Homo sapiens: one gene and its partners. The protein of the gene in region 2 purifies or fractionates together with the protein of the main gene of each other region. This does not show direct contact. Each region holds a gene or a part of one and is shown on either strand. Other genes may lie near its edges. The genes, in order: NDE1, CENPF, NQO2 and GPC6.

Region 1 (8,442 bases), on a different chromosome or scaffold from region 2:
TTAGAGCACACTGAGGTCAAAGTGAGATTTAAAGCTGCCAGAAGCTAGTTATTAGTTTGTTTCATGGCCACAAGTAGCTATTAATATCTTACAAAAGTATCCTAAGAGCCTCAGTAGGGAAATGGTAAGCATGGGTGGCCCTGCACACATATCTCTCTGCTTGGAGAAGCAACTCAGAGAACATTCCATGCTCACGTTAATCTCATCTTCAGAGAGAACAGAGCAGATTATAAATTGTAACATCCAAAAGCCAAACTTCCAGTATTCAGCAAAGACAGGGACCTCTAAATGGCACAGTCAACACAAAAATCCCACACTATGTGTGCCACTGCACTACACTCTATGTGACAGGAAAATAAAAGCAACCTCAGGCCTTCAACCAGATAACGAAGCATTGAAGATGAGCTGACAGCCCAGAGGAGAGGTAGCTGATGGGAAGAGGAGAAACTGGGATGTTATCTAGAATCCTGACACTAGGAGGTCAGTCAGGGAGGGGTAGGGAACCTGCAGGCATCTGGCATTTAGCCTCACTGTACAATCCTCATTTTATTTATTTTTGAGACAGGGTTTTCACTCCATCACTCAGGCTGGGGTGTAGTGGCGCAATCTTGGCTCACTGCAACCTCCACCCCACCCTGGGTTCAAGCGATTCTCCTGCCTCAGCTTCCAGAGTAGCAGGGATTACAGGCGTGCGCCACCACGCCCGGCTAATTTTGGTATTTTTAGTAGAGACAAAGTTGCACGATGTTGGCCAGGCTGGTCTCAAACCCCTGACCTCAAGTGATCCACCTGCCTCAGCCTCCCAAAGTGCTAGGATTACAGGCGTGAGCCACCGTGCCTGGCCTCTCAAACTGATTTTTAGAATAACCCTGAGTCACTTGTAAACTAAATCATATTTACTAAATAATAATGTATCTTAAAAGTTGGTATTTAGGGGTTTGGGTCATACAGGGGTCTCCATTTATCGTACAATTAAGATTTGTGAATCTCATCACATGTAAGTTTTACCCCAAAAGAAGCAAAATTGTGTTTAAAAATAAACTCTAATTAATATGCAATGTTGAGGTGTGGAAGGGGAAATGTACTGACATCTGTAATTTGCTCTGAAATGTACCCAAGAGATAAGGCATGATAGATAGAATTAGTCTTTATAAATAAATATGTGGGCCGGGCATAGTGGCTCATACCTATAATCCCAGCACTTTGGGAGGCCAAGGCAGGCAGATCATGTGAGGCCAGGAGTTGGAGACCAGCCTGGACAACATGGCAAAACCCCATCTCTACTAAAAATACAAAAATTAGCCAGACATAGTGGTGTGCTCCTATAATCCCGGCTACATGAAAGGCTGAAGCAGGAGAATCGCTTGAACCCAGTGGTGGAGGTTGCGGGGAGCTGAGATCACACCACTGCACTCCAGCCTGGGTGACAGAGCTAGATCCTGTCTCAAAATAAGTATCTGATAAAGTTCATATAATACAGTGTCAATGACTGAATCCAGGTGGTGGCCTTAAAGGTGTTCACCGTACAATTCTGTCAACTTTGCTGTGTACTTGGAATTTTACAGAATGAAATCTTAGGGAAGAGTGGTATTAAAAGTATAGAAACTGAATTACTTGGAATACTACTCAATAGGTATTCAGTAAATACATTTAGTGAATAAATAAGCACCTCATTCCTTCTTCAGGCTAGAAACTAAGGCATCACCATGTGTGCAGGTGACCCTCATGGTGCTGGTACCCAGAAAAGTCACAGTCATCAAGGCTTCTTTGCCATCCTTACTGTGACCTGGTAGCGTTAATGCTCCATGGTCGCCCAAGACAAGATAAGACAGCCTCCCATGGCTCCCCACAGAGTGGAGAGGGGATGCAGGCACAGGCCAGAGCCACGCGTCATACTCTGCAGAGCTGATTCCCCAACCCAGCGTCCATGGCCAGAGTGGGGGACACCCCACGCCCTCTACCTGATCAAATTTCCTCTGCTTCTTTTCCAGGTTGGACACGAGTTGCCGCTGGTTGTCCAAATCAACAACCAGGTCGTCCAGCTCCTGCTGAAGCCTGTTCTTGGTCTTTTCCAGTTTATCATAAGCGGCCGCCTTCTCCTCGTACTGCTGGGTGAGGTTCTCGATCTCCTTCTGGAACCTCTTCTTCCCCTCTTCCAGAGCTTCCACGGTGCTGGCAAAGTCCTGCAGCTTCTTCTTCGAGTCGGAGAGCTACAAGGACAGCGTCCAGGGTAGGGTGAGAGGGGGACCATGAGTGGCCCCTGTCCCTGGCCCCACAGACTCTGAGAAGCGAAGACCATGTCTCCTCGTTGGAGAAACCCAATAGCAGGGGAAGCTGGGGGGTCAAGCACCATCGCACCAACACTCCACCGCGATCTGCCTGCGGGGGATCTCAGCGCAGAGAAGTTGAGAGGACCCATGAAGGAAGCAAGGACACGGGGCAGGCACCTGGATGTTGAGAGTGGAGATGTGGCGCTCCAGGTTCTGCTTGGCCTCCATCTCCTCGTCCAGCTGGTCTTGCAGGCTGTTCCGCTCCTCCTCCAGCTGGCGCAGCTTCGTAGACACGTTGAGCTTCTGCCGGGTTTCTTCTTGAAGCAGCTCCTGCAAAAGGGATGCAAAGAGGTCCCAGGGACCTGCCCCGAGGAAGGCCACCCCCCAGGTCCCCTGGATGATGTGGCAGGACACTCACCTGGGTGTCCTGGAGCTGGGAACTGAGGGACGCCACGTCCTTGGCCAGCTTAATGGCCTTCCCCTCGGCCTCGTTAAGCATCCCTGTGACGCTCTCAACTTCATTCTAAGGGTGCCAAGAGACTGGTTAGTCAAAGCCTCTAGAAGGGGATCCTCGTTGAAAGGAGCCCTTTTTACTCAAAACACATGGGCTAGTACTTGAGGTGTTCACTGATTGAGAAAATACCCGTGAGGTATGGGACTCTGATAAAAAAAAAAAAAAACACACACACACACAAAAAAAACAGAATCTGTGGCTTGAAGGGAACTCCGTCACCTATGAGTTGGGACCCTGGCCCTAGACTCTGTGGTTCTAAGAACTTATTTGAGCCCCAATGGTATTGACTGGGACCTGATCCCACTAAATGGATCCTAGATCCCTGCCAAGGTTGGTAGAGACAAAGCAGCAGGTCTGAGAGTCCAGACGAGGTGCTCTGGCTGGTCCACTCTCTAAGGCTGGAGAAGGGAGACCAGGATGGTACTTGAACGTCCCAGGGATGCTGTCCCATCCCTTCCTTCCTCACTCCTACTCTTTGACCCTGATGGCCAAAGCCAGAGACGCAGGCCCTAAAGGTAAAAACGTCCTCTCTGTATTCTCTGGCTTTTACTCCCTAGTGTCTCTGCATAAGTCCCTTTGAGGCTGTTAGCCTACCCCTCCATCTCTTCCATTGACAAGGAGGATATGAATGATCTTGACACTGCTTATATGAGGGCGGCAAAAGCCCTGCTCTCAACTGCATGTGAGAAAAAAACATCTCACTTAATTCTTCCCTCGCCCCTTGGTCCCTGGCTGTGGACATGTTAAACATTTGTGAAAACTTTGGCCACGTCCCCATGAGTGGCAAGGCAGGGTAAATGGCTATGCCAAGTGAAAGAAGACCAAAGACAAAAAGACCATGTCATTCAGCAGCTTAAAACCCCTCAACAGCTTCACATTGCCCAGAGTAAGGATCAACATACATGTAATAGGTTCTCAAAAGCCCTACATCATCTGGGTACAAGCTCCCCCTCCAACCCCACTCTGTACTATCTCCCCCTACCCCCAACCCCAGCTGGGCACTCCAGCTCTACTGGCTGTATGTCTCTCTCCTAATTTTTCTACTTACCACAGGGCCTTTGCACACGCTGTTCCCTCTGCCTGGTAGACTTATCCATGCTCCTTAGGGAAGCCTTTCGTGGCTCCTCCTCCCCCAGGTTAGGCCCCCTGGTTATTTACACTTGGGCATCATGTGCCTTCCCTTTGCTGCATCATTTGACATTCATTTGTGTGATTATTCATGTCTTTCCCTTCCCTTCCCTTCCCCTTACTCGGCTGGAGTCCTACTGGGGCAGCGACAGTGTCTCTTCTTCCTTGCTGTTGGATCTCAGGATTAAGCACAGTGCCTGGCATACAGCAGGTGCTCAATAAATACTTATCAAATTGGAAAAGGAAGGGTTTTTTTTCTTTTTTTTTTTTTTTCCTGAGACAGAGTTTTGCCCTTTTAGCCCAGGCTGGAGTACAATGGTGCGGTCTCCGCACACTGCAACCTCTGCCTCCTGGGTTCAAGCTATTCTCCTGCCTCAGCCTCCCGAGTAGATGGGACTACAGGTGCCCACGACCACGCCTGGCTAATTTTTGTATTTTTAGTAGAGACTTTTCACCATGTTGGCCAGACTGGTCTCAAACCCCTGACCTCAGGTGATCCACCCACCTCTGTCTCCCAAAGTGCTGGGATTACAGGCATGAGCCACCGTGCCTGGCCAGAAGGTTTTTTTAATATTTAATTGAACAGGGAGATCATCGCCTCTCCTCCAGGAACGCAACTAGAGGAAAGGACTTGCCTTGCAGCAAGAGAGACCTCAGCGAGCCGGGAAGAGGCTCCTCCCCACAGAACTGGGCACCACCCAGCACTGCCCACCACACCACCGCGCCACCTCCTCACCTGCAGCTTGTGGACTTTGTCATTGAGCTCCGCCCGGGCCCGCTCCCCATCGCTGCACTTGGACTGCAGCTCCTGCACCTGCGCCTCCAGCTTCTTCTTCTTATGTTCCACCTCCTGCTTGGCCTGGCCCAGGACCCGCAGCTCCCCGGCCAGGTCTGCGTTCTCTTTCTCCAGCGTCTGCTTATTCTTGTCTAGGTTCGCCTTGGCCTGGCGAAGGAAGCAGAGGGGAGGGATAACAGGGAGGCTGTGGCCGGGAGAACGTTTCAGGCCCTGCCCTTTCCTCCCTCAGAGAGGTCCAGGAAGGCACACAACAGGGGGCACACAATCACCAGTAAGAGATTTGGGGTTTTTTTGTTGTTATTTTTTTTTTGAGATGGAGTCTTAACTCTGTTACCCAGGCTGGAGTGCCGTGGCACAATCTTGGCTCACTGCAACCTCCGCCTCCCAGGTTCAAACTATTCTCCTGCCTCAGCTGCCCAAGTAGCTGGGATTACAGGCGCCCGCCACCATGCCCGACTAATTTTTGTATTTTTAGTAGAGACGAGGTTTCACCATGTTAGCCAGGCTGCTCTCGAACTCCTGACCTCAAGTGATCCACCCATCTTGGCCTCCCTAAGTGCTGGGATTACAGGCGTGAGCTGCCGCACCCAGCTGATATTTTGGATTCTATTTTCCTAAAGCTCATGGGTTGCAATCTGGAATCCCACAAGCGGTATCCAACCTGCTGACATGTCCCCTTTGACCCTTTCACTACTTTTAAAAAAATGAGTTGCCGACATTTTAATAAATGTCACATAAAAATCTGGATTCCCAGCTTCTTTTTCAAAAAACTTTAATGTTTGAAGGCATGCCATGGCAGCTCATACTTGTCATCCCCAGCACTTTGGGAAGCAGGCAGAAGGATCGCTTAAGGCCAGGAGTACAAGACCAGCCTGGGCAATGTAGTGAGACCCCCATCTCTACTAAAATAAAACATTAGCTGGGTGTGGGGGGCACACACCAGCAATCCCAGCTACTCAGGAGGCGGATGGCAGGCTTGCTTGAGCCCAGGAATTGGAGGCTGCAGTGAGCTATGATCACACCACTGCACTCCAGCCTGGGCAACAAAGTGAGACCCTGTTTCAGAAATAAGTAGCTTTGGGAGGCCAAGGCAGGTGGATCACTTGAGGTGAGGAGTTCGAGACCAGCCTGGCCAACATGGCGAAACTGCATCTCTACTAAAAATGGAAAAATTAGCCGGGCATGGTGGCGCACGCCTGTAGTCCCAGCTACTGGGGTGGCTAAGGCACAAGTATTGCTTGAACCTGGGAGGTGGAGGTTGCAGTGAACCAAGATCATGCCACTGCATTCCAGCCTGGGTAACAGAGTGAGACTCCATCTCAATCAATCAATCAATAACTAACATTCTATGTGGTGACTGTGGTGGTGGTAGTTACACAATACACATTTGTTAAAATTAATGGAGCAGTAAAATGGATAAATTTTACTACATATGCCTCAGTAATCCTAAACTTAAAAACAAAAACAAAAAACCAACAACAACGAAAGATCTGGAAACAGAGGGTCTTGCTTTCCTTCAAGGCAACAATCTGCCACATCTAAGTAGCGGCTGGCTCTGCAGGTGGGGCAGTCACCTTTCACCGCCCCCGTCCTTCACAGGTGTCGTGTGATTGACACTGCTACTTCTGTCCTAGTTAAGGGAAACTTATTTTATGGAACCAGCTCCTGTAGGCATGTGAGTTGCCCTACAGGAAAAAAAAAGTGTGTTGGGGCCAGGCGCGGTGGCTCAGGCCTAGAATCCCAGCACTTTGGGAGGCCTATGCAGGCAGGTCACTTGAGGTCAGGAGTTTGAGACCAGCCTGGCCAACATGGTGAAACCCCGTCTCTACTAAAAATATAAAAATTAGCCGGGCATGGTGGCAGTCACCTGTAATCCCAGCTGCTGAGGAGGCTGAAGCAGGAGAATTGCCTGAACCCAGGAGGCGGGGGTTGCAGTGAGCCGAGATCCCGCCAGTGCACTCCAGCCTGGGCGACAGAGTGAGACTTTGTCTCAAAAAAAAAAGCGTGTTGGGCAAAAGTAGGACGCGGTGAGGGGCTTCTTTCCAGGTTGTAGAGAAGGGGAAAGAGAAGCGCAAGTATCCCGAGAGGACGAGACCCACCACTCAGTCTTCCCATAGTCCCTGGGAGGTGCTGGACGTTGACCGGTCAGCCCTGGATGCCCGTCCTCCCTCCAAGACATGACTAAGAGCTGCCAGACCTCAGATGGGGACAGGGAGTCTCTTGGTGGTAACAAAGCAGTGAAGCGGGGACCCTAGGGGACATGGGCTCCCAGAAACCTTAGCCCAGCCTAAGACCCCAGAACTGGGGCCAAACCGCACGAGGGCCTGGGGAGCCCAGGTAGGAGCTGATGTTAAACGTTTCCCCCACAAGCAGATGGAACCAGGTCTCTACATCAGAATTCAAGTTGTTAGAGGCAAAGGCCTCTGTTTCCCTGCACCTGAGATGGGCAGAGGTTTGCACCTCTACCTGCTTTGTGCGGGTCAGTAATGGACATGCCGTCTGCTGGTGGTCTTAATAACTGCGTCTTCCCAAAGAGGCCTGGCTGGGAATGGGCTTGGCTTCTAGCTCCTGTTCACGTCTAATGAACCCCAAGCATGGGGAGGGTCAGTGATTCTGTCTGGGGCCTCACTCTTCCAACCATAATTTTTTTTTTTTTTTTTTGAAACTGAGTCTCACTCTGTTGCCCAGGCTGGGGTGCAGTGGCACAATCTTGGCTCACTGCAACCTTTACCTCCTGGGTTCAAGTGATTTTCATGTCTCAGCCTCCCAAGTAGCTGGGATTACAGGCGACCGCCACCACGTCCAGCTAATTTTTGTATTTTTAGTAGAGACGGGGTTTTGCCATGTTGGCCAGACTGGTCTCAAACTCCTGACCTCAGGTGATCTGCCTGCCTCGGGCTCCCAAAGTGCTGGGATTACAGGCGTGAGCCACTGCACCCAGCCTAATTTTATGTATTTTTAGTAGAGATGGGGTTTCACTATGTTGGTCAGGCTAGTCTTGAACTCCTGACTTGGTGATCCGCCTATCTCAGCCTCCCAAAGTGCTGGGATTATAAGCATGAGCCACCGCGCCCGGCCTTTGGGGGCAGTTTCTAATGGTTTAGCACTATCCCTTTGGTGCTGCCCTCATGAGATCTGGTTGTTTAAAAGTGTCTGGCAGCTCCCCATTCTCTCTCTTCTGCCTGCTCTGGTCATGTAAAACATGCCTGCCTCCCCGTTGCCTTCCACCATGATGGTAAGTTTCCTGAGGCCTCCCCAGAAGCAGAAGCTGCTATGCTTTCTGTACAGCCTGCAGAACCGTGAGCCAATTAAACCTCTCTTCTTTAGAAATTACCCAATCTCAGGGTGGTGCAGTGGCTCACACCTGTCATCTCAGCACTTTGGGAGGCCAAGGCAGGTGGATCACCTGAGGTCAGGAGTTCGAGATCAGCCTGGCCAACATGGCAAAACCCCATCTCTACTAAAAAAAAAAAAAAAAAAAAAAATTAGCCGGGCATGGTGGTGTGTGCCTGTAGTCCCAGCTACTTGGGAGGCTGAGGCAGGAGAATCATTTGAACCCAGGAGGTGGAGGTTGCAGTGAGCCAAGATCACGCCACTGAACTCCAGCCTGAGTGACAGAGTAAGACTCCACTGCTCAAAAAATAAACAAATAATCCAATCTTGGGTATTTCTGTAGAGCAGTGCAACAACGGACCAATACACTAGTGATAGAACCAAATGCAAATTCCCCAAAA
Region 2 (8,333 bases):
CAAAAGTAGTGACAGATAAAGAGTTTCTAGATTAAAAATTCTTATAAAAACATCAAGCAATTGTCAATTATATGACTCTGGCTTCAAAAGTGGACACTGACCTTAATGTTCAGCCTGTGCATGCCCTGGTTGACGGTGTCTTTGGAGACTTTGTTTTGTCCACAAAGTGGTGGATGAGGGTTCCTGAATGGCATGGATGCCCTGATGGGATTTTATGCATACATACTTCAATTTGGCTTCTCTCTGAATTTATTTAGTGGCCTGGATTTTATTTTAAAGGGCTTAATTAAGAACCATTCAGTGACAGTTAATAGACTGAAACAATTTGAAGAGAGCCATAAATCAACATTGTAATTTTAAGAAGAGGAACAACACAAGAATGGTAGAAATTTCTTCTCCATCAAACCCCACAGGAAAGAATGTTTTTCTGTTTATTCTTTAAATGTTCTATGATCACTTTTTAGGCTGTAAAGATTAAGAAAACTTTGTCCATAAAGAACAGTTATTTGTTCAGGTGAGGAAAGTCTAAATGTATTTATCCCCACCGCTTTGCAGAGTGTATCATGATGGTAAAATCAGAACATCTGTCAGTAGCAGACAGGTGATTGTTAAATCAGCTAACCCCAAAGGGGCAATACTGCTGGAGATAGGGGGCTGCAGCTCCAGCCACAAAGTGGAAGAAAACTTCAAATCAGATGATAGTTTCATCAGCAAACGTTTTCAAATGGAAGTGTTTGTTTCAGCAAAACAAATGTTTGCCTTTTGGCCAGTGGGGACCAACCAACAGATGCTTCTGCTAACATTTCCACAGGCAGACTGGCATCGAACTCTTCCCTCTGTGAGCTTCCCTTTCAGCCAGGAACTCTCCCGCGACTCCACTGGCTGCCTGGTGGAAACATTTTGTAAAAGCAATCATCTGGTTAAGAGAGTCCAAACACTTTAAAAACTGCTTGCTTGGCCAAGTCGCAGTAGTGGGCTGGACATTGTCTTGCAGGTGTTTCTGAAGACTTGTTCATCCCCACGAGGTCTGGTCCGTGAGCTGTAGCGCTGTCCTCAGTTAATCCCAGCCTGTACTGAGGTGCATGCATCACATTTCACTGGTATATCATTGATGTCTGTGTCAAATGAGGGCATCTGTGTGAAAGTGTCTAGCACCGGGCCTGGGGATGAAGTTAATATTTGTCTTAATTTATGGTTATGTTTATGTATGTGTCATCTTTTGAGGGTGATAGCAAGATTTCAAAGAGTTTGGCTGGCTCTTGTGTTTTGCATTGGGATTGGGACCAGATAACTGATGAACCCAGTTAGAGTGGTGGTGTAACTTAGTGGGAAAATGGTAGTGGCTTTAGAGTGAGTGAGATCTGAGATTGTGTTGCTTTTCTGCCACCTACCACAATGTGACCTTTAGACAGTGGCTTACCCTTTCTCAGTCTGACTTTCCTCATCTGCATATAGGGACAAATCATTCTCCTGCCTTTTCAAGGCTGTATTCTTGGTTAAGTTAAATATTGTATGTAAAGTGCTTAGCCCAGTGCCCAGCACATAAGTGCTCAGTCAGTTATTGCAGTCCAACACCTGCCCATTGCCTTGGTCTTCATCACTGCCATGACCTTTTGATGTTAGCATTGTTTGCTGTCACCTACAGGCACAGAAAGTGTGATCAGGGGACAGTGCACTTGAGATTTCTCATATTTATAATTTTGCCTGTTCTATTACTGTGTCACTCTGGGTATCTTTCTGTGTCTAATTATATGTAAGCACTAACAAATTTAGGACGCTTATAGGTTTTGGATGCCGAAATAATGTGACAGTTGTACTGAAATTTTCCTTGTCTGTGTTTAGTAAACATGCTGCTCACAATGAGAAATTATCAGTACTGGAAATGTGATTTAATGGCCCAATCAAGGGTAAAGTTAACATTTAGTATCAAAGTGAATGGAGGGTTTAGATAAGCTGCTCGTCCACTATCCAGTGCCAGCCCCATAGCATTGGGGTTAGGCAATAAAATACCATCGTTTGACAGTCAAGATGAGGGAACACTTGCCTGGGGACCTTTCCAAGCATAGGGATCTGTATTACACTAGGTCCTCTAAGGAGCTGGCTCTGGCAAGCAAGAGAGATGAGGAGGAAAGGGAAAAACACATTCTTTGCATCCATCCCTTATCCAAGTATATAGGCTTCGCCCAGCAGGGGACGTATTAAGCTATATTCATGGATGGGATCATGAAATGCCACACAGTAGCTGAAATTTGTTTTGTCTGGCCCTAGGAAATGATGCCTCCCTTGCTGCTCCTAAAGCGAAGTTGATCTGGGTGGAATTGCTTGCTAAGCTCTAATGCTGGCTTGTGGTTATAGGGATTTTTGTTGTGCTTTTCCAGCATAGTACCCAATTTTGCAAATCATGTGAGGATGCAGGAGATGCCTAGGAAAATGTATCTTTGTATGCTTAACTCATTGTTGATAATGAGATACCCAATCAAGTCTTAAGTGGCTGTAGCCTCGTGGAAAACTAATTGCTGATGGATGGCAGCTTGCACATCCATTTTCAGATGTTCATTTTCTAAATTCTGGCCTTTTAAAATTCTTGGGTTGGTCATAGCCATAGCATTATAAGCCTGCTGGGTCCCAGGATTGGCTGAACATTTCTTCGTTAGACACAAATATTTACGGAGCTAATGCCAGAATAGAGAAAGTCATGTTAATCTTTCCATTGAGCTTACTATTCATTTAAATGTCTCCAGTTATGGACAGACATGGATCGAGACCAACAAACACATAAACATAAAATTCCCCATCTTTCCCTGGTGCCCTCTCTCTCTTCTTTTTTCCTTCCTTCCTATTGGGACGCACCTAGTTTTGCACAGTGTCTTTCCAGCTTTCTTGTCAAGCCTCCAGATGCAGGTGTCATTTGATTTGATTAAAAAATTTTTTTTTTAGAGTAAGAAAATATTTTTTCATTTGCAAAATAAAAATGCTAAGTCGACCCAGGTAATTACATTCTAGTTCCTCTTCTATGTTGACCTCATTCAGCTGATCTTAGCATTGATTACAGAGATCTGGCTACTGTTAAATTTTGGGAGGAAATACTACTAATAATGCTACATTGCCCCTGTCAAAGTGCTTTAAGATGTTTGTCCTTTCACATCTGTGATCTCATTTGAGGGGTGATTATTCTGAGTCTGAAGAACAAACCAGTCATTATACGTTCCATAATTTAATGATGCTAATTTAAATCAATAACATTGTTGCACCTTAATGATCGTGCTTTGCAAAGTTTAACACTGACTAGTGTGAATGTTAGCCTATCAATCTTGAGATCGGTTGGAGCTGCCCTTTAGTTCTGATTGATATCTTAATTCGATAGAGTGTCAGTTTAGCAGCAGGGAAGCAGGATCAGGACACGGTAGATGGGAGTATAATAACTACAACAGGTTCTGTCTTATTTTAATGATGAAATGAACGCATATACATGAACGGAGCAGCTGCCAGCAAGTTTTCAAGTACTTTCTACTAGCCAGATTCTCCCTCTTCTTGAATTTGGCTTTGCTACATCGGTACCCATCTGCTGGTAGTAACCAGACTGATAATTGAAGGCAGCCTTCCAACACAGTATTGCCACGGCCATCTGTTTTCTAACAGTGCAGTAGGGTTTTGGAGGATGGGTCTTAATTGTTTCTTTAAGATTCAGAATTTTTCCTCTACTTCACAAAGGGGTAATTTTGGTAGGTTTGAAATGCAGTTTAGAAAAAAGTTAGCTTTATATGATTTTTCCCCGCTTGAGGATGTGAGGTGCTTGGTTCTCTTAGCTTGTAATGATTTATGCCAATTCCCTGTGGTCCAAAGGGTGGCATACAGTATAGGTTGAGATACTTGTTTGTTATGTGAGTCTTATGTGGTTAATAAGCAAAAAAGTTTTTCTTTGGCATGTAAATATTGCTTGCTTTTAAGATTCAGAACATATAGGCCTCCCTAGTAGTAGAATGGAACTACACATGTACCTGTGTTACTTTATTGCATGCTGTTGCGTGGATGTCTCTTCAATCAGATGCCCAAAGAACCTGTTTTCACTGTGAAAGCTCAGAAGCTAGAATTAATTCTTCCTCTGTGTTCCAGCCCTCTGATTTCCCATAGCACACTCAATGTCTCTTTAGTATTTAGCATATCCTATTGTGTATTAAATGATTAGTATCACATCTTCCCCCACTGGAGGATGTCTGCCCCAAGGGCAGAGACTCTGTCTTATTTATATTTGCATTTTTTGTAATGCACATTCCAGCATCTTGAATATTGTTGGTTTTCTTGATAAGCATTTATTGAAGGTAATTTTTCCCACAGAATCATTCCTGTAACAGCAAACCTTAAGATGGTTTTGCAATGAAAAGTAAACATATGTGCTGAGATTTTTTTTTTTTTTTGGTTTATTAACAAATCAAATGTTTGCAAAGGTATATTTGGCCATTCAGGTGTGATAGGAACTTGGAGGTTTTGTCTTGAGGATCTTGTAGATAGGATTTTCCTTTTGAGCTTACTCTTTAATAGGCGTATGAACAATGAGAAAGTTCAATGAAACTTCTTGAAAGAAAAAATTATCTTCAGATTTGGGTTTGATGCTGTTGTCTTCTGTTCATAACATTATTTAAGTAAGAATGTCTGACTTCATTAGGTACTCAAACGGGGAAATTGTGATTCTTTCCCTAGTGAGATACACAAACAGTTCTGCTAGGGACCTTTATTAAGGCAGAAGTCATAACTTACTTGAGCATTCGTTTTGGCTATAACCAATTAAAATGTGTGTTTTAGGAAATGAAGAAGGAAAACAACCTCCTTAAGAGTCACTCTGAGCAAAAGGCCAGAGAAGTCTGCCACCTGGAGGCAGAACTCAAGAACATCAAACAGTGTTTAAATCAGAGCCAGAATTTTGCAGAAGAAATGAAAGGTAAGTAAACTTAGTATTTTAGAGTTACCTTTCTAAGCTGCTATTCCCGTGAGAGGGGATGGATGGCATTAACATATTAGAGAAACTCTTTGGATTTTTTTTCATATATTCCCTCAAAAAGATGTGCGCAGTTGATGTGGAAGAGTTTTCCCTCTTCTAGTTTTTAGTTTCCAGAGTGAGAGTGGGACTTTTTTTAATTGGAACATATTGAGTCCCAAACGCCTGATGCTCAGCACTTTGAAATCAGAAGGGTAAATATTTTCCACACAAAGCTAAATTGTCAGTGCTGTCTCTCACCCCCGAGTGCTATTCTCTGTGTCTCTAGTGTGCTTGTTAGTTACATCCAGACAGCTCATCTCCTGACTCATTACCATTTCCCTTATAATGGAAAAACCCTATATTAAATGCATGTTTTCCAAGCTCCTAATGACCATTGTTTTTTGATGACTTACTTGACTGAATGATTTTATTTTCTTATTTTAAAGCCAAAGAATTCTGCTCTACACATCAAATGAATCCACTCTTGGTTTCATATTTGTATGTTTGTGCCGGATGTCTTCTACATACCCTTTATTTTCTCACCTGGGGTGTTTGCATATCTAGAATTTCTTTGAACTCTGTCCTGTGGAATGTGTGTCACACTTCTCTGTGACTATTTTTTTAAAACCCCAATCTTGGTGTGGTGGCGGGTGCCTGTAGTCCCAGCTACTCTGGAGGCTGAGGCAGGAGAATGGCATGAACCCAGGAGGCGGAGATTGCGCCACTGCACTCCAGCCAGGGCGACAGAGCGAGACTCCATCTCAAAAAAATAAAACAAAACAAAAACCCAATCTTCCCAAGACAGCTTTTAGTTTTTCCACAGCAGCAGATAGAAATGTCAGTTTTCAGCTTTCTTGAAGGGAAACTGTAAGAAAAGGAACAGTTGGGGCATTTTTCAGTGTTGATCACCCAGGTGATTGTTTGAGTTGCTCACAGCAAAGTGGGATGAAGCCCTTGTGGTGCTGTCTACATAAGCCCTTAACTATAAGTAGGTAGATTGAGATTGACAGCTTAGAAGTTCGTACTGCTTTCCACTTGATATGATGTCTGAGATTGTAATACATGTTACCTTTATCATCTACTGTGGAGGTTCTCAACTTTCAATCTCCCCCAACATACTTGAGCAACATGAAGCCTTCTTATCACTGTTTAATGAAAACATCGTGGTTATTCCCAACCAGGAGGGGCCAGTATGTATAGATGAGTCATTAGGCAGAAGACAGGGGGTAACGGAGTTTGAAGAAGCTTCCAAATGACTGTGACATTCATAGACACTGCCACCCTTACTATGAGGGGCTGGGATGGGGGTGATAATGTTCCTCAGGAATATTCACATATAGGCCTTGAGAATTACTGATATATGGCATCATTTACTCTTTTCTACTTAAGTCTAATCCTGTGGATGTTTTAGCTAAAATGGTGGAGTACTTATTTACTTTTCTGAGACATCAGAATTACTCTACAATAAAGTGGGATGTTCCCATTTCAGTGCTGTTCTTGTCCCAGTTTTCTCTCTTGGAATAAATATTTGAAAAGATGGTAAAAATATACACATATGTAAACACATACAAAGAAAAGAAACAGTGCTTAGGAAAATCATCCCTTGGTATTTTATTCAATAACATGTTCTTAAGCTGCTAGAAAGAAGATGAACAAATGTGTTACTCTCCTTAAGATAACCATTTTTCTCATTTTTATATAAGATAATTACCAAGTGATCCACTTTCTAGGAGGTACCCAGGCAATAATGCCAGTTTTTCCAGGGCTTGAGTAGTTGTTAGTTTGTTTGGATTTTGCCAGGGGGCGGGGGGAGGGGTTAGCGTTTCTGTAGAATAAACATTTATTACAAACATTGACGACTTTTATTTATTTTTAAATAGCGAAGAATACCTCTCAGGAAACCATGTTAAGAGATCTTCAAGAAAAAATAAATCAGCAAGAAAACTCCTTGACTTTAGAAAAACTGAAGCTTGCTGTGGCTGATCTGGAAAAGCAGCGAGATTGTTCTCAAGACCTTTTGAAGAAAAGAGAACATCACATTGAACAACTTAATGATAAGTTAAGCAAGACAGAGAAAGAGTCCAAAGCCTTGCTGAGTGCTTTAGAGTTAAAAAAGAAAGAATATGAAGAATTGAAAGAAGAGAAAACTCTGTTTTCTTGTTGGAAAAGTGAAAACGAAAAACTTTTAACTCAGATGGAATCAGAAAAGGAAAACTTGCAGAGTAAAATTAATCACTTGGAAACTTGTCTGAAGACACAGCAAATAAAAAGTCATGAATACAACGAGAGAGTAAGAACGCTGGAGATGGACAGAGAAAACCTAAGTGTCGAGATCAGAAACCTTCACAACGTGTTAGACAGTAAGTCAGTGGAGGTAGAGACCCAGAAACTAGCTTATATGGAGCTACAGCAGAAAGCTGAGTTCTCAGATCAGAAACATCAGAAGGAAATAGAAAATATGTGTTTGAAGACTTCTCAGCTTACTGGGCAAGTTGAAGATCTAGAACACAAGCTTCAGTTACTGTCAAATGAAATAATGGACAAAGACCGGTGTTACCAAGACTTGCATGCCGAATATGAGAGCCTCAGGGATCTGCTAAAATCCAAAGATGCTTCTCTGGTGACAAATGAAGATCATCAGAGAAGTCTTTTGGCTTTTGATCAGCAGCCTGCCATGCATCATTCCTTTGCAAATATAATTGGAGAACAAGGAAGCATGCCTTCAGAGAGGAGTGAATGTCGTTTAGAAGCAGACCAAAGTCCGAAAAATTCTGCCATCCTACAAAATAGAGTTGATTCACTTGAATTTTCATTAGAGTCTCAAAAACAGATGAACTCAGACCTGCAAAAGCAGTGTGAAGAGTTGGTGCAAATCAAAGGAGAAATAGAAGAAAATCTCATGAAAGCAGAACAGATGCATCAAAGTTTTGTGGCTGAAACAAGTCAGCGCATTAGTAAGTTACAGGAAGACACTTCTGCTCACCAGAATGTTGTTGCTGAAACCTTAAGTGCCCTTGAGAACAAGGAAAAAGAGCTGCAACTTTTAAATGATAAGGTAGAAACTGAGCAGGCAGAGATTCAAGAATTAAAAAAGAGCAACCATCTACTTGAAGACTCTCTAAAGGAGCTACAACTTTTATCCGAAACCCTAAGCTTGGAGAAGAAAGAAATGAGTTCCATCATTTCTCTAAATAAAAGGGAAATTGAAGAGCTGACCCAAGAGAATGGGACTCTTAAGGAAATTAATGCATCCTTAAATCAAGAGAAGATGAACTTAATCCAGAAAAGTGAGAGTTTTGCAAACTATATAGATGAAAGGGAGAAAAGCATTTCAGAGTTATCTGATCAGTACAAGCAA
Region 3 (8,333 bases), on a different chromosome or scaffold from region 2:
CCACTCTTTTTTTTTTTGAACCACAGTTCAGCCAAACAGGCTTTCTTTTTTTTCTTTTACTTTCTCTTTTTTCTTGAAACAGAGCCTAACTCTGTCACCCAGTCTGGAGTGGAGCAATCCTCTAATCTCAGCCCCCTGAGTAGCTGGGATTACAGGCATGCACCACCACACCTGGCTAATTTTTAAAAATCTTTGGTAGAGATGGGATCTCACTATGTTGCCCGGGCTGGTCTCAAATTCCTAGGCTCAAGTGATCTCCTGCCTCAGCCTCTCAAAGTGCTGGGCCTTCTGCTTCCCTGGGCTTTGCCAGGCCTCCCTATGCATTGTGATAGCCAAAGTTTGCTTTCTACAAAGTCACCTCCAGGCAGTGACTGTCCACCAGGGCACTGTAGAGCCTCCCAGCTAATGATGAAGTCACTCACTCTCCTCTCTTTTTCCTTTAAGATAATCCCTTTCCAGACCCGCCATTTTGGCTCACCCTGTAAGTTACAGCCCCACTTCTCACTGCCAAGTGTGGGTGTCACTGCTGGCTCAGGGAGCATGGATCCTGTAAACTTGCCTCATCGGGAGGCTTTGAGGAGTGACCCCCAGGAACTAGACAAGTAACTTGTTCTTCACAATCACTGCCCTCCCAAGAACATCCAGGATTTCAGCCTCAGTGCTAAGACAACCATGTCTCTCCCTGACACATGCTCGCTGCTGAGAATTCTAGGAAAAGCAGAGGGCTGTGCAGGCGCCCCTGCCCCTAGGCTAGGAGAGCTGGCAAATGCCTGGAGACCCAAAGGCCTCATCCTCAGGGCGGCCAACTCTTCTGTTTTAGTGATATACAGACTATCTTTTATTGTGATTTATAGTGCAACTTACCGGTTCAAACAATACTACCTGTATTCATAAACTTTCTTTTTCCTTTCCTTCCTCACTGCCCAGCTTTAGGTTCATTCTTGTAAGTGTTGCTGGTGTCAGAATAGGAACCTCCCTGCGCTTTGAAGGGATGAATGTGACCTCTCCCACATTCTCCGGTGCTGTGATGTACCTTAAACACAGCAAGGTACTTGGACACAAAGCCTGTGCCTGGAGCACTTTCAGACAGACAGTGCATGGCCCTCGCTACAGACTCAGTGCCATTGTAGATGTTTCTGCATGGAAAATACATAAACACAAATATCTGCAGTTGCCAATCCACCACCATCTTGCAGCCCCAAGAGAGCCCCGGGAATCCAGGTTCCTTTGGTATTTCTGCTCCCTGCCCTTGGTGCATAGCCTCCATCCCCAGGACGACAAGAAGGCTGACTGAGCCCTAACATCATCCCACAGTCCAGCTGGGAAGAGAGCCAGCGACAAAGCCAGAGGGAGCTAGCTCCCACACCTCCCAGCCCCAGCTGAGTTCGCTTCTTGAGGGTATTTCTTGGAAGCCCCGCCTGTGACTTCTGCTGACACCTCACTGGCCATCTCAACTGCAAGGCAGCCTAGGAAATGTAGTGCTTACCTGTACACGTGGATTCCTGGAATCAATTCAGGGTCTGTCCTTGGGGAACCAGAGTGGGGATATTCAGTCACTAAAGATGCAGGTTCCCAGCTGTCCAGTGAAGTCAAGCGAATGGGGAAGGATTTGAAGTCACCTTTGGGTGTTTGGAGTGATCAGAGCTGTCTGCCCTCTTGGGGAGTGACAGTGCCCCACTCTGTTAAGTCCCATGCCTGCCCCCAACTCAGCTTCAGCCACAATGATGTAGCCTCTTTTCCTTTCCATCCACAGGGCACCTGGCCTGGGTGGAGCCCACTCCTCAGCACCCACCTCACTTCTTGCAGTATTCTGCAGACCCCAGCCCTGTGCCTGTGCTCCTGGACAGCTGGAGATAAGGAGTGGGCCCTGGAAGATGCTCATTCAGGCCCTGCTCAAGATTCCAGTCCTGGTGGGGATAAGCACCACTTTTGTGTGTCTCTGTGCTTTTTGTTTTGCTGTAAAGACACACTGATAGGTTCACGTTGTCGTTTGGACACAACATGCGCGATGCGTGTCTTCACACTAAGCCCTAGTCACACTCTCTGCATTGTTTTTTTATCCCATTTTTTCCTACTGTGGTACAGAACATCTCACATAAAATTGACCATTTTAACCACTTTTTTTGTTTGTTTGTTTTTTGTGTTTTTGGACAGAGTCTCGCTCTGTCTCAGCCTCCCGAGTAGCTGGGATTACAGGTGCACACCACCACGCCCGGCTAATTTTTGTATTTTTAGTAGAGACGGAGTTTCGCCATGTTGGCCAGGCTGGTCTCGGACTCCTGACCTCAGGTAATCCACCTGCCTCAGCCTCCCAAAGTGCTGGGATTACAGGTGTGAGCCACGGTGCCTGACCTCATTTTAGCCACTTTTAAGGGTAGAATTTTCTGGCTGTTTTCATTCATGTACTGATAGACACTTGGGTTGCTTCCATGTTTTAGCTGTTGTGGAAAATGCTGCTTTGAACATGGGTGGGCAAGTGGTTTTCAAGACCCTGCTTTCAGTTTTTTGGGTTCAGAGTAACGAATGGAATTGCTGAGTCATATGTTAATTCTCATTTTTCTAATTGTAATTTTTGGGGGCACAGCACCTCTCCAGCAGCGGCAGCACTCGACCTTTCCCCAGCGGTGCACGGGGTTCCAACTTCTCCGCATCCTCACCTACGTGTGTTTTGTTTTTTGGTAGTAGTAGCCATTCTAATGCGTGTGATATGGGATCTCATTGTGGTTTTGATTTGCATTTCCCTAATGATTAGTGATGCTAAGCATCTTTTCATGGCTTACTGACCATTCATACATCTTTGGAGAAAAGCCTACACAAGCCTTCTGCCCATTTTTGCATTGAGTTGTTTGCTTTGTTGTTGTTAAGTTTTATCTGAGCTGTTTTTTTATGGTAGGGAGAGTGGGTTTGTTGGAGTCTCCTTGTATCTCCCAGAAGGAAGCCAGAATTTCAGAGATGGCCAGGAGGGGGTGAGGCCAAAGGCTCCCCTGGGGAGAACTCACGTTTTTCCAGAGCCCCATTGTGTGCCAGCCACCGCACATAGCAACTGTCTCTCTCTCACTCTTCTGGGCCATGCTGTGACTTTGTTGATGAGGAGGTTGAGGCACAGAGGGGTGGAGGGATGTGCTGCAGGGCCCACAGCTACAATGGGCAGAGCTGGAAATTGCACCAAGTCTGTCTGATGCGGGGGTCTCCTCTGCTCCTCTGGCCTCCGCTGCATCCCTGGAGAATCTCTGAGACTTCTGGTTAGAGCCTGGGTCTAAGCCAACTCCCATTATTTTCAAGTGAGGGGAAGGGCCGACAACTGCCAGTGCTGGCCCACCAGAGTCTGGCACCAGCCGAGGAGTGCACGCACCCATTGGTGGTGTGGCGGTTCACTGATCCCCCAGCCTTCTGCTCGATCTACGGGGAAAACTGGGGAAGGCAGGAAGGCCAAGGAGGCTCAACTCCTGCTTCCTACCGTGGCTCATTTCCTGGGTCCTTTGCTGTATGACTGTCTGGATGGAAGGTTCAGAGTCCTCTCAAAAAAGGAAAAAAGTATGGGTTTTGACATCCTGCGTGGCTTGTCCTCTGAGGCCTAAATCTCCAGAAGATTCCTGGCCTCTCTTGAGAGGTCTTTCTCTGATGTGTTTGCGTGTCTGTCAGGAAGCAGCAGTGATGCCTAGATGTGGTACATTCGACCTCACCTATGCCTCTCCCCACCCCCTCTGGGTTCGTTTTGTCTTCCAGATTGCTGGACTCGCTGAAGAGAGACTACGCAGGAAAGCCCCAGCCACCCATCAAATCAGAGAGAAGGAATCCACCTTCTTACGCTATGGCAGGTAATGATTCACTATTGTGGAGTAAGACTTTTTTTTTTTTGAGATGGGATTTTGTTGTATTGCCCAGGCTGGTCTCAAACTCCTGAGCTCAAGTGACCCTCCCACATTGACCTTCCAGGTGGGAGTTAGACTCTTAATCAGAAATTGGATACATTGTTGTAAAAAATCCAAGCCACGTGGAAGTGTATAAACTATCTGGAATTATCTTGTTTTCTATGTTCTCACTTGTTTCATTGTTCCTTTCGACTCCCTCCAGAATTTAGGTTCCTCAAAAGTGGGGCCCTGCCTATCCTGTCTTTGCTGTGCCTCCAGGCCCTGAAATTCTCCCTGGGCTGTAGCAGGGGCTCAAGTGAATGAACCCCAGGAGGCATCTTGGGTAAAAATTCAGTACGATTCTATCTTTGCTTTTGCAACTGCTTATCATGCACATATACATGAACATGCAATCTCTCAACTTTTTAATTTCACCTAACGATATAACATGGAGAGCCTTTCGTGTTAGAACGCACAGGTTCACCTTACTCTATACATTATGGTGTAGATTCGGATTTTCGCCCTTGGCACCACTGACATTCTGGGCCAGATAATCCTATGTTTTGGGGGGTCATCCTGTGCACCCTGTTTAGCACCTAGCACCATCCCTGGCCTCTGCCCACCAGATGCCAGTAGCACCCCTCCCCCACCGGCTGTGACAAACCAAAATGTCTCCAGGCATTGAGAAACGTCCCCTAGCAGGCACAACACTGCCCCAGTTGAGAACCATTGGTGTAGGTATTTCATTTGCATCTATTCTCCTGTTAAGCCCCTAAGTATAGTTCCTTTATTGAAACAAGAGTCTGAGAAAGTAAAATTAAAATGTTAACCATGAATCTAACTTATGGAATTCAACCTTTGTAGCCAGCTCAATGCCCTGAAACCCATTGCTTCAAACTGATACGTGTATCTTTTCCTTAAAGTGTCATTATGAAAAATTTAAATCAAGAGTTTAACATCTTCTTAAAGGTGACCAGGGTAAATTTAATTAAGCAAATCACCAGGCTGCCTCCCAGACGAAGTCAGTATATAAGCCTGGAGACTCTTTCCAATGAGGAAAATACTGCTTCAGAAGCCCCTGGTGTGAACGATACTGCCAGTGCCAGGAGGGCCTGACTCTTCCTAGAGTCCTCTTTGTTATCAGCATCACCACTGAAAGATGGGCTCCATGTGGCCCTGCCTTCCCATGAGACCAGCGGGTCTGATTCCTCATGTTTTGTTTAAGTGTCAGATTTGATGGACTGGGGGAGATGGAAGCAGAACTGTGCCACACTGAAAGGTGCCTGTAGCTGATATCTGCAAATGTAGGGTTAGCATGGAAGACTAATTCCAGCAGTTCTTTATTTTGGTGTTAGGGAGCTGGTCTAAACCTTCTTACAGAGGATAACCAAATTAGGTTGGGCTTTTAAAAGATTTAGTGGTGGTATTTTTGAGGAGATATAATTTGACCCATTGTATTGTGATGTTGAGCTATGAATAACTGGATTTTTAAAATGCCCATTGCTTTAAAACTGCCACCTATTAGAAAGTTTGGTATTTCTGGGGCCAGGTGCTGTGGCTCATACCAGTAATCCCAGCACTCTGGGAGGCCAAGGTGGGCAGATCACCTGAGGTCGGGAGTTCGAGACCAGCTTGACCAACATGGAGAAACCCGGTCTTAACTAAAAATACAAAAAATTATCCGGGCGTGGTGGCGCATGCCTGTAATCCCAGCTACTCAGGAGGCTGAGGTAGGAGAATTGCTTGAACCCGGGAGGCAGAGGTTGCAGTGAGCTGGGATCGTTGCTCCAGCCTGGGCAACAAGAGCGAAACTCTGTTTCAAAAAAAAAAAAAAAGAAAAAGAAAAAAGGAAAGAAAAGAAAGTTTGGTGTTTCTGGCCAAGTGCGGTGGCTCATGCCTGTAATCCCAGCACTTTGGGAGGCCAAGGCGGGTGGATCACTTGAGGCCAGGAGTTCAAGACCAGCCTGGCCAACATGGCAAAATCCCATCTGTACTAAAAATACAAAAAATTAGCTGGGCGTAGTGGCACACATCTATCGGGGGAAATTCAGCCAGATATTGGGCGAAATTCACCCCCAATATTTCACGTAGGTTCTTTTCTATATTTCCTAAGTGTCGGCCGGTCTGAGAAATAAACGGACAGAGTACAAAAGAGAGAAATTTTAAAGCTGGGTGTCCAGGGGAGACATCACATGTCGGCAGGTTCCGTGATGCCCCCAAGCCGTAAAACCAGCAAGTTTTTATTAGTGATTTTCCAAAGGGGAGGGAGTGTACAAATAGAGTGTGGGTCACAGAGATCACATGCTTCACAAGGTAATAGAATATCACAAAGCAAATGGAGGCAGGGCGAGATCACAGGACCACGGGACGGGGCGAAATTAAAATTGCTAATGAAGTTTTGGGCACCATTGTCATTGAGAACATCTTATCAGGAGCCAGGGTTTGAGAGCAGACAACCGATCTGACCAAAATTTATTAGGCAGGAATTTCCTTGTCTTAATAAGCCTGGGAGCGCTACGGGAGACTGGGGCTTATTTCATCCCTACAGCTGGACCATAAAAGACAGCTGCCGCCCCGAAGCGGCCATTTCAGAGGCCCACCCTCAGGGACGCATTCTCTTTCTCAGGGATGTTCCTTGCTGAGAAAAAGAATTCAGCGATATTTCTCCCATTTGCTTTTGAAAGAAGAGAAATATGTCTCTGTTCCGCCTGGCTCACCGGCAGTGAGAGTTTAAGGTTATCTCTCTTGTTCCCTGAACATTGCTGTTATCCTGTTCTTTTTTCAAGGTGCCCAGATTTCATATTGTTCAAACACACATGCTCTGCAAACAATTTGTGCAGTTAACACAATCATCACAGGGTCCTGAGGCAATATACATCCTCCTCAGCTTATGAAGATGATGGGATTAAGAGATTAAAGTAAAGACAAGCATAGGAAATCACATGGGTATTGATTGGGGAAGTGATAACTGTCCATGAAATCTTCACAATTTACGTTCAGAGATTGCAGTAAAGACAGGCATAAGAAATTACAAAAGTATTAATTTGGGGAACTAATAAATGTCCACGAAATCTTCACAATTTATATTCTTCTGCCATGGCCTCAGCCAGTTGCTCCATTCGGGGTCCCTGACTTCCCACGAAACACACCTGTAGTCCCAGCTAGTCAGGAGACTGAGGCATGAGAATCACTTGAACCTGGGAGGCAGAGGTTGCAGTGAGCTGAGATCATGCCACTGCATTCCAGCCTGGGTGACAGAGTGAGACTGTCTAAAAAGAAGAGAGAGAAAGAGACAGAAAGAAAAGAAAATTTGATATTTCTTAGCTTCAATTACTATGATGCACCTGAACATTCAATTTTCATCTTAGTCTTCATTGAATTTAACAGAGAGAGGTTGTTCTTCAAGAGGAACTGTTTCTTATCCTGATTTAGGTAAGAAAGTACTCATTGTCTATGCACACCAGGAACCCAAGTCTTTCAACGGATCCTTGAAGAATGTGGCTGTAGATGAACTGAGCAGGCAGGGCTGCACCGTCACAGTGTCTGATTTGTATGCCATGAACCTTGAGCCGAGGGCCACAGACAAAGATATCACTGGTGAGTCATGGGATAAATGCTCTATTTATAAAAACCATCTTTATGTTTTTTACTTTAAAAAATGTTGACTTCCAGCTGCAAAATGGCATTATAGAAGCAAGCTAGCTTCACTTTCCAAAAACAAATAGATAGCACTGGGATTATCACCAGCAGTATCCCAGAAGTCAAATATGAAGATGAAATAGTTCCCAAGACCACACATAAGTGAAACAACTCCAAGCAGACGGTAAGAGATTGGACTATCATATCCACGACACCCCTCCCCACAAACTACCCAGCACCAGCTGTGTGGGAAATTTCCTCCCAAGTCACAGGTTCTACACTGGAAAAGAGATCAAGGGGGACAATCAGCTTCTCAATTTTCTGGGGTTCCCAGAAACAGGCAGGAAGGAGACCTGTTCCTGCCTCAACCCACAGGAAGCATCAGGAGTGCCTAAAGGGAGAAATATCCCTGACAACAGCCAGAGACAAAGGAGGGAGATGGGAATATTGTCCCCAGCCCTGGAAACTCTGATCTGTAACTTAGCCAAAGGAGATGCCAAACCAGAGTGGCTGTTCAGCAGCACCACACTGTAGGAGGTACATTCTGCAGGTTTCCTGGGCATGAGCTGCTAGCCAGCCTTCCCACACTACCATGCTATCCCCTTTGGAACCTCTCATATTCAGGACTGGCACACTCTGAACAGTAGGTTACTAGAGCTGAGGCAAACGTGGGCATAAACCACCATCTAGTGCCAAAAAGCAGGTGGTGGCTTAGTAGAGGAAAAAAAAAAAATTTAATAAGAAAGTTGCAAAGACTTTCTAAGCAAATATATGTAATAAAAATGAAAACAAGTCAGACATAGAAGACTGAAATAAATAGATGTCATCCACAAGAAACAACAG
Region 4 (7,547 bases), on a different chromosome or scaffold from region 2:
GTACTGATACTAAATTTGGAATCCCGTCTTTAATATGAGAACACAAATTACTACAACTCAGTACCTCTGTCTTACTCTGCCCAATTTCAATTTAGTAATGGCACCATTATTCTTAATTCCCTTAATGTCTGTCCGCTGTATCCAATTGGCACAGATTTTCCCCTTCATCTTCAATTACTAGTAGCTACCCCCATCAATTCACCTTCCTCAAGAGTCTCAATTGAAAATAATCTTTGATGATACAATCTCTGCTTTTGCCACAGGTTTGACATTAACTAGACGTTTCTGCCCCTGTGCTCATTACCCTCCCAAAACAATAGTTTTTTTAATGAATTGAAACACAATTAGATCCATTCCTGAGTTTTCATTTTTAACTATTTACTTTGTGTCAGTTGGTTTCTGCATCACAAGGGCATTCTCTTACAAAACAACTCACAACAGAAAAAAAAAGTCAAGACAAAAAATATATATATATAGTATTGACATGGAGATTTCTTTCACTTTTTTAGTCTTAGTATGATCATCTATTTTTATATCTATGTATATATAAATCACAGATTTTAACTTCTTAATTCCAAGCTCAGGGTTGACACACCTTTGTAAGAAAATGTTTTGTCAACCAGCTCTTCTTGTTTTGTGCTGCTCAAAGAAGGGATTCCTCAGTGATCGGTGAGCACCAAGAATCAAGAAAGAGAACTTTTTATGTATCTAACTGTCCATTTATTAAAAATTTGCCAGGGCACACCCTTCTGCATGAGTGTGCTTCAGCCTGGGTGCTCCAGACTACACCAAACTCATGGGATGAGCCATTGGTGTGCAGGGCTTTACCGGTGATGGAAACTGTATGTGTAAAGAATGTTATTCATGAAAAACCATTGCTTTCATGTAAAACACCTTCGGCCTAGGATTCCTGCCTGGCACTTGGATACATTACCTAACTCAATAGGCCAGTTTAGAGCCACAGCCTAACCTGTTCACCAAGTAGGCCAAAGCCAGGCCTTTCGCTCCCCCTGACAGAGAGAAGCAAAATAAACCCAACTGGGGGCTTTATGAATACAGTTGGCTATCCATATGTTTCTTAGTTTTTATGATGCATCTGGAGTAGGGAAAAGTAATGTTTCAAGACACCATAGTAGGCCAGTTACATTTTAATTAACTCATCGACAGTATTGACACGTAAATGGTATTTTTCAATCTGTTCTCATCAAAATTAAAATTAGTTATTGATTTAGTCATCACATTTAAGTAGAACACATGTGGCACAATAGTATTAAGTATATTTGAGCACTTTTGCAAGACAGAAAGTATTTACAAGCATCTATTGCTACTTTATGCCTAATGAAATATAAAATGTAGGATGATGAGAGACTTTGTGGCATTCTTTCATTTAAACCTTTATGAAATTAACCATCTAGTTCATCATTACATACTCCTAGAAAACCATCCATTTCACTGCCCACATTTTGGCTTCCTACCACAAATTCCACATAAGACTTCTCTATGAAGGACCAGTCATTTACATTGCTCATTTCATTCTGTGTTCAGAAGTCAGTATTGTCTTTCTCCAATAATTAAGGTGCAATACAAATTAAATCAACCTTGATTTTCCAGACTATTTGAATAATAACTTGCTTTTATGGCTTTAAACTCCAGGTCTTTCCTTTTTAAAATATTTCTGCATTCTCTTTTATGAACTAGATCAGGATGCCTTGTTTTTCCTGTGCTTTCACCCCCAAAAGGTTTTGTGCATGTGTATGAATACACATAATATTAGTGAATGTGAACCCATGTTCTATACGCACTAAACACACAGTTAATATATAAACGCCTGCTTCATTTGTTTCAACACCTTCATTATCAATATGATTCATATTGATGAGATATAGTGATGCATAATGAGCCAGGCAGAGAGCTGAAATGATATCAGTTAATGATGTCACAGTGTTAGCACCCTGCATGGATGTGGTCAAAATATCATTCAAGTTGTACTTCCTAGTTTTTATCATCATACTACTATGTCATATGATTTTCAGACTAATTTAACATGAGAAATGTTTTGGCCCTAAAGGATTTCACTTAACCTAGTTACCCTATTTCAGTAAGTATTTTGGAATTCAACCCTCGAATTATTTTTTCTCATTTCAGCATAGTGATAGGGGATGCAATGAGGCTTCATTATTTTTTATGACCTGCCCCTCATTTGCTCTGATGTTCCCTAAATTCTGTAATCATATCATAACTTTTGTTATGAATAGAGAGGAATGGGCTCACTGAAACCTGACACTAGAAATTGGTGGGTGATGCTCATAACTGCAAACACTTAGCTTATTGAAGTGCCTCTATTTACATGTTCTTTAGTTATAATATGTATTTTTCTAACAGAAATACACGTCTGTAATTGGTATATATTATACTTTGTATGTGTCACAACAAAAGCTAAACAGAGGCTAAAGTCTTTAGCAGAGAAGAATGAATTACAAATTTACCAATAAGAGCTCTGTTTATGGTTCTGTATTGAAGGACAACCATGACAACCTTCTGTCATTTTCACGAAGGCCAAGTTGGTACTTTGATTATAGCCATCGTAGAACATTAGCACTAGAAATCTGTCTCCCTTACAATGACTTACCTAGCTAGCATCAAGTAACTTGTATCACCTGCTTTAAATGTAAGGGATAGAAAATACTATTTTGTCTACACTGAAAAACATTATTATTCATTGATAAGTAGTAATAATTATAAAAGTAACATTCTTTAAAGCAAACACATTGAAAATATTATTACAGGCAGAACCCTGATTTTTAATTTATATTCCCTGCTGCAGACATTAGCCTTCTTTAATTCTTTTGCCATTACATACATGTTTCGGCTACAGACTGAACACGAACTAAAGTCCCTAAGGAGGAAAAAACCTTAACATATTCCTGAGATGTGATTCTTTTATTACTTCTTTTTGCAAAGCTAATTATCAAATGATTTGATTAAACCTAGACGCATTAGGAAATGCAAGTTTTACCTAAAACTTGCAGAAATTTAAACACATTTCCATTTACTTACTAACGAACAGACCTGATTTTTATTTAAAAACACAATTTAGCTTTGCCAACAGAAGAGTAAAGGAAACCATAACTTATAAATTTGTAATGTGTTCCTCCTTGTTGGAGACATTAGCCAGTGTTTAGTTTTAGACCAACTTATACAAAGAGAGTATTGATTTGTACACATTCTGGAGACTTGCTATATCATGGTTTGCTATGGCACAGACTCAGCTTAGCATGGGGACATTTTGAACTTCATTCAAAGTTGAGTAGTTACTGGAACCTTTGACATTGCCTTGTAATGAGGTACTTCCAAAAAAAGACCCCTAACAATGGCATAATAGTGAGGTCTCTCTGTGCATATACATAATATATATGCAGGATAAATGTGTGCACCAATCAAATCTAAAATTTTATGTGACTGTCAAATGAATATTATTTGGGTTAAGATTTTTCATTTCTGATTTGGATAGAAAATTGCTATTAATCTTGTATTAAAATAGTTTTTAAAAATCTACCAGTGCCCTTTCTGCATTTTCTTAATTATTGTCATAGTCTAAATTTCAGAGCCATGGAATTTTTTGTGTTTGAGACATTTTTAGAAGCTTCAATATTAAAAAACAACAACAAACCTCGTATATTAAAACAGTGCCACTCTCCTAAGTACACTCAGCATCTGAAATCAGGAACTATTTGAACTTTAGAACATTTAGAGCTTCCCAAATGTGTATGGAAAATACTGTAGCGCTGTTCTTTTGTACTGATTTCTTCTCAGAGGATAAATTTAGTGACTTGAAAACTGATGTCAATACTTTATAAATGAGGTCAGAAAATAAGATCAAATGTGAAAAGACTAATAATTTCCCAATTTAGCCAATTGCATTGATTTTTATACTTCTGAAATGTTTCCATCCTCTCAGGCATGCTAAATATTGTATAACCTGCTAAAGATTTATTTCACAAATGCTTATTGAACTCTTATTCTCTATAAACCCTGCTCTAGGGGATTTATCACTGGCTGTGAAAAACCACCAGTTGAAAATTATTCATTCCTTAATGCAGCTAATCATAATTATTACAGATAAATAATGTATTTCAAGAATGATCTTATAAATAAAGGAACCCATACAAACAAAGGTACCAAGAATACAGCATTTAACTGTAAGAAATACTGTGATTTAGCTCACATTATTACTATTTTGGTTTTTATTGAGAAAAGTGACTATTACAAAACAATTAAGGAATGTTAGAATAATTCCATCTATAAGATCAAAATATAACAAATTTTATTTGGAAGCAACAGAAACCAATTTATTGGGCAGGAAAAACATCCAAGTGTTTTTCATCCAAATGAAACCAGACACTTTTATCAGGTAACAACAATATTTATTTTAATTTGCTCTTTGGATAAGTGGACAGGGATATAGTTAAAGTATATGCACAAATGTGGTAACAGAATTACATTGATTTAAAAAATCCAACTTGTAAAACAGTGGCAATGAGGGATAAAGTGTTTTTGTATCTTGAGAGCTAGAAACATGCAGGCACAAATTTAAGTCTGTTTAAATAGACGTTGACAACTGACTTAGTGCAGACACATTTCCATTCCATAGACATATTTCTTTGCTGGTGTAAACATGTGGCCAAACATATTTTGCTGGCTCATAAATAGGGCATGCAACAAAGCCAGGAGGAATTAGATGCCTGCCTTTATAGCCTGCTTAAGGAGCGCAAGCTCATGTATACCTTGAAGCATAAAGCAAAACGAGAAATTGGGAAAATGGGACTTTTACCCTGTGAATGCTCAAGTTTGGAGAGAAGGTGAAAGAAGGATTACAAACTGGATTCAAGAGAGCAGAAGAATATTTACCTTGACTAAAGCCACCTTCCCTTTAATAAGAACAAGCATCTGTGGATTTTTTTAATTAAAACAAAATTACTGACCTCAGCAATTATTCACTTTTTCAAAAGATATATAATGAGAAATCATCCCATGCCAAACAGTTCTGGGTGCAAGAGCAAGACACTAAAATTTCCGCCCTCTCCCTTTAGTGAGGAAGAGACAGACAACATGTAAGCCAATAAATGAACACGAAGATTCAGAAAGTGAAAGGCGCCATGAAGGAATGAAACAGGAAATGGGATAGCGACCAGGAAGGAAACTCTCCTTTAGGTTAGTGGTCCAGGAGAGCCTGGGGTGATGGAGCTGTGATGAATGACAGGGAAAGAGACAACCATGAGCAGAGCCGGGGATAGAAATTTCCAAGCAGAGAAAGTGCAAATGCAGAGATCTCAGTTCAGGAATGACCTGTACTTCAGCGTGACTGCAGTGAGGTGCTGAGCGGTGAGATGACTGAAGAGCTGACTTTGGGAATTATCCACTTTTTTTCAAAAGATAGATAATGAGAAATTATCGCATGCCAAACATGGTCCTGGGTGCAAGAGCAAGACGCTAAAATTGGGGCAGCCATGTTAAGCCTAATGGCCAAAGCTATGGTCTTATCCCCTGGTGAAGCCAGAACCCTCGTGGGACACAGCAGCCCTGCTGGTCGCACTCACTAACATTTTTTTTTTGCGGGGGGTGGGTGGGGCAGACGGAGTCTCGTTCTGCTGGAGTCTCTCGCTCTGTCGCCCAGGCTGGAGTGCAGTGGCGCCATCTTGGCTCACTGCAACCTCCGTCTCTGGGGTTCAAGCGATTCTCCTGCCTCTCAGCCTCCCGAATAGCTGGGATTACGGGCGCCTGCCACCACGCCCGGCTAATTTTTTGTATTTTTAGTAGAGACGGAGTTTCACCATGTTGGCCAGGCTGGTCTCGAATTCCTGTCGTCGTGATCCGCCCGCCTCAACCTCCCAAAGTGCTGGGATTACAGGCGTGAGCCACCATGCCCAGCCATATTTCATCTTTATAGCATCTCTATGATATAAACATAATAATGCCCATTTTATACTGAATAAAATGAGACACAGTGAAATTAATAACTCACCCAATCACACTAAGAAGGTCATGATATGAACCCTGATCTGTAAGAACTGGACAGAAAAATGAAGGTATTAATATATAAGTTTGTTTTTGTTGTTACAAATTCAATTATCCAAGCGTGCTCTGAGTATTGACAACAATTGTGCAAATTGGCAACAAGTGTGAAAACAGGAATCCACAGATTTCTATCAGCATAAAGGATATATGTGAAATTTTAATTCTGAGATGGAGTTGCTTCGTGTCTTAAATTTTTTTCAAAATTAAAATCCTAAGTAAATAAATGACTGGGGACTCTGGGTTCTTATTATGTAGTTTTGAACTTGCAGCCACCTTGAAACAAAGCATGATCCCTAAGACAGAAACACGCATCAAGCCTGCTTCCCCTTGTTTGTCAACTCGGCTTAGACACCATATTCACAGGAAGCAAATTAGATATCAAATTCACAGGGCTTAGCCCAACTCCCAGTGACTCTCCCGTATATTAGCCGTCTGTAATTTAACTCTTCTGATGGTCAAGTGGACCTAAAATATAAATCAAAACAGCTCAACAATTACCCAACTCAGATAACTAGTTTGGCAGCTTTGAAAACTACACTGACTGTTAAAACATCTTATAAAGTACCGTAACATTGAACATCCAGCCCAATCAAAGTCCTAGCGAGGGCTTTCTTAGTTAAAATAAAGACTGCAGCATAGGGACCCCCTGTGCCTTTCATATTCCTGGAGTTAAAGCTACTTTCATTGTTGGTTTCTACCTCATGCTTGCTTAAAAGGCGTGGGTCATTGCCATCCTTACCTGAGAGAATCAGGGGTATTGAGCACAGGTTGTGTCCTTCTTAAAAAGGTTCTCTAGGCCGGGTGCGGTGGCTCACACCTGTAATCACAGCACTTTGGGAGGCCCGGGGGTGGGGGGGGGGGGGGCTGATCACAAGGTCAGAAGTTCAAGACTAGCCTGGCCAATATGGTGAAACCCCGTCTTTACTAAAAATATAAAAATTAGCTGGGCATGGTGGCGGGTGCCTGAAGTCCCAGCTACTCGGGAGGCTGAGGCAGGAAAATTGCTTGAACACAGGAGGCAGAGGTTGCAGTGAGTCAAGATCATACCACTGCACTCCAGCCTGGGTGACAGAGTGAGACTCCATCTAAAAAAAAAAAAAAAAAAAAAGTTCCTCTAGATGAGGAGTCCTCAACCTTTTTGACACCAGGGACCAGTTTCATGGAAGACAATCTTTCCATGAACTAGGATTAGAGAGGTAATGGTTTCAGGATGATTCAAGTGCATTACATTTATTGTGCACTTTCTTTCTATTATTATTACATTATAATATATAATGAAATAATTATACAACTCACCATAATGCAGAATCTGGGAGCCCTGAGCTTGTTTTCCTGCAAGGAGACAGTCCTATCTGGGGGTGATGAGAGACAGTGACAGATCATCAGGCATTAGATTCTTATAAGGTGTGTGCAACCTAAATCCCTCACTTGTGCACTTCACAATAGGGTTTGTGCTTCTGTGAGAATCTAAT

Evidence for each region.
Region 1: the proteins of CENPF (region 2) and NDE1 purify together in Homo sapiens (pull-down; one study listed by IntAct). This does not show direct contact.
Region 3: the proteins of CENPF (region 2) and NQO2 fractionate together in Homo sapiens (co-fractionation; one large-scale study listed by BioGRID). This does not show direct contact.
Region 4: the proteins of CENPF (region 2) and GPC6 purify together in Homo sapiens (co-immunoprecipitation; one large-scale study listed by IntAct). This does not show direct contact.

The regions. Positions count from the first base shown.
Region 1 is NC_000016.10:15,722,200-15,730,641, forward strand, and holds the end of NDE1 (nuclear distribution protein nudE homolog 1), read left to right. Parts: intron 1-1,961; coding exon of another isoform or gene 1,962-1,991; coding exon 1,992-2,052; coding exon of another isoform or gene 2,053-2,210; 3' UTR 2,211-2,447; coding exon of another isoform or gene 2,448-2,600; 3' UTR 2,601-2,688; coding exon of another isoform or gene 2,689-2,793; 3' UTR 2,794-4,154; downstream 4,155-8,442. Other genes in the region: MYH11 (myosin-11), read right to left, coding at 1,962-2,210, 2,448-2,600, 2,689-2,793, 4,649-4,855. UniProt on the Homo sapiens protein: Required for centrosome duplication and formation and function of the mitotic spindle. Essential for the development of the cerebral cortex.
Region 2 is NC_000001.11:214,633,066-214,641,398, forward strand, and holds part of CENPF (centromere protein F), read left to right. Parts: intron 1-4,800; coding exon 4,801-4,936; intron 4,937-6,855; coding exon 6,856-8,333. UniProt on the Homo sapiens protein: Required for kinetochore function and chromosome segregation in mitosis. Required for kinetochore localization of dynein, LIS1, NDE1 and NDEL1.
Region 3 is NC_000006.12:3,002,742-3,011,074, forward strand, and holds part of NQO2 (ribosyldihydronicotinamide dehydrogenase [quinone]), read left to right. Parts: intron 1-927; exon of another isoform or gene 928-1,048; intron 1,049-1,753; exon of another isoform or gene 1,754-1,910; intron 1,911-3,726; 5' UTR 3,727-3,811; coding exon 3,812-3,818; intron 3,819-7,283; coding exon 7,284-7,448; intron 7,449-8,333. UniProt on the Homo sapiens protein: The enzyme apparently serves as a quinone reductase in connection with conjugation reactions of hydroquinones involved in detoxification pathways as well as in biosynthetic processes such as the vitamin K-dependent gamma-carboxylation of glutamate residues in prothrombin synthesis.
Region 4 is NC_000013.11:94,403,847-94,411,393, forward strand, and holds the end of GPC6 (glypican-6 precursor), read left to right. Parts: 3' UTR 1-4,174; downstream 4,175-7,547. UniProt on the Homo sapiens protein: Cell surface proteoglycan that bears heparan sulfate. Putative cell surface coreceptor for growth factors, extracellular matrix proteins, proteases and anti-proteases. Enhances migration and invasion of cancer cells through WNT5A signaling.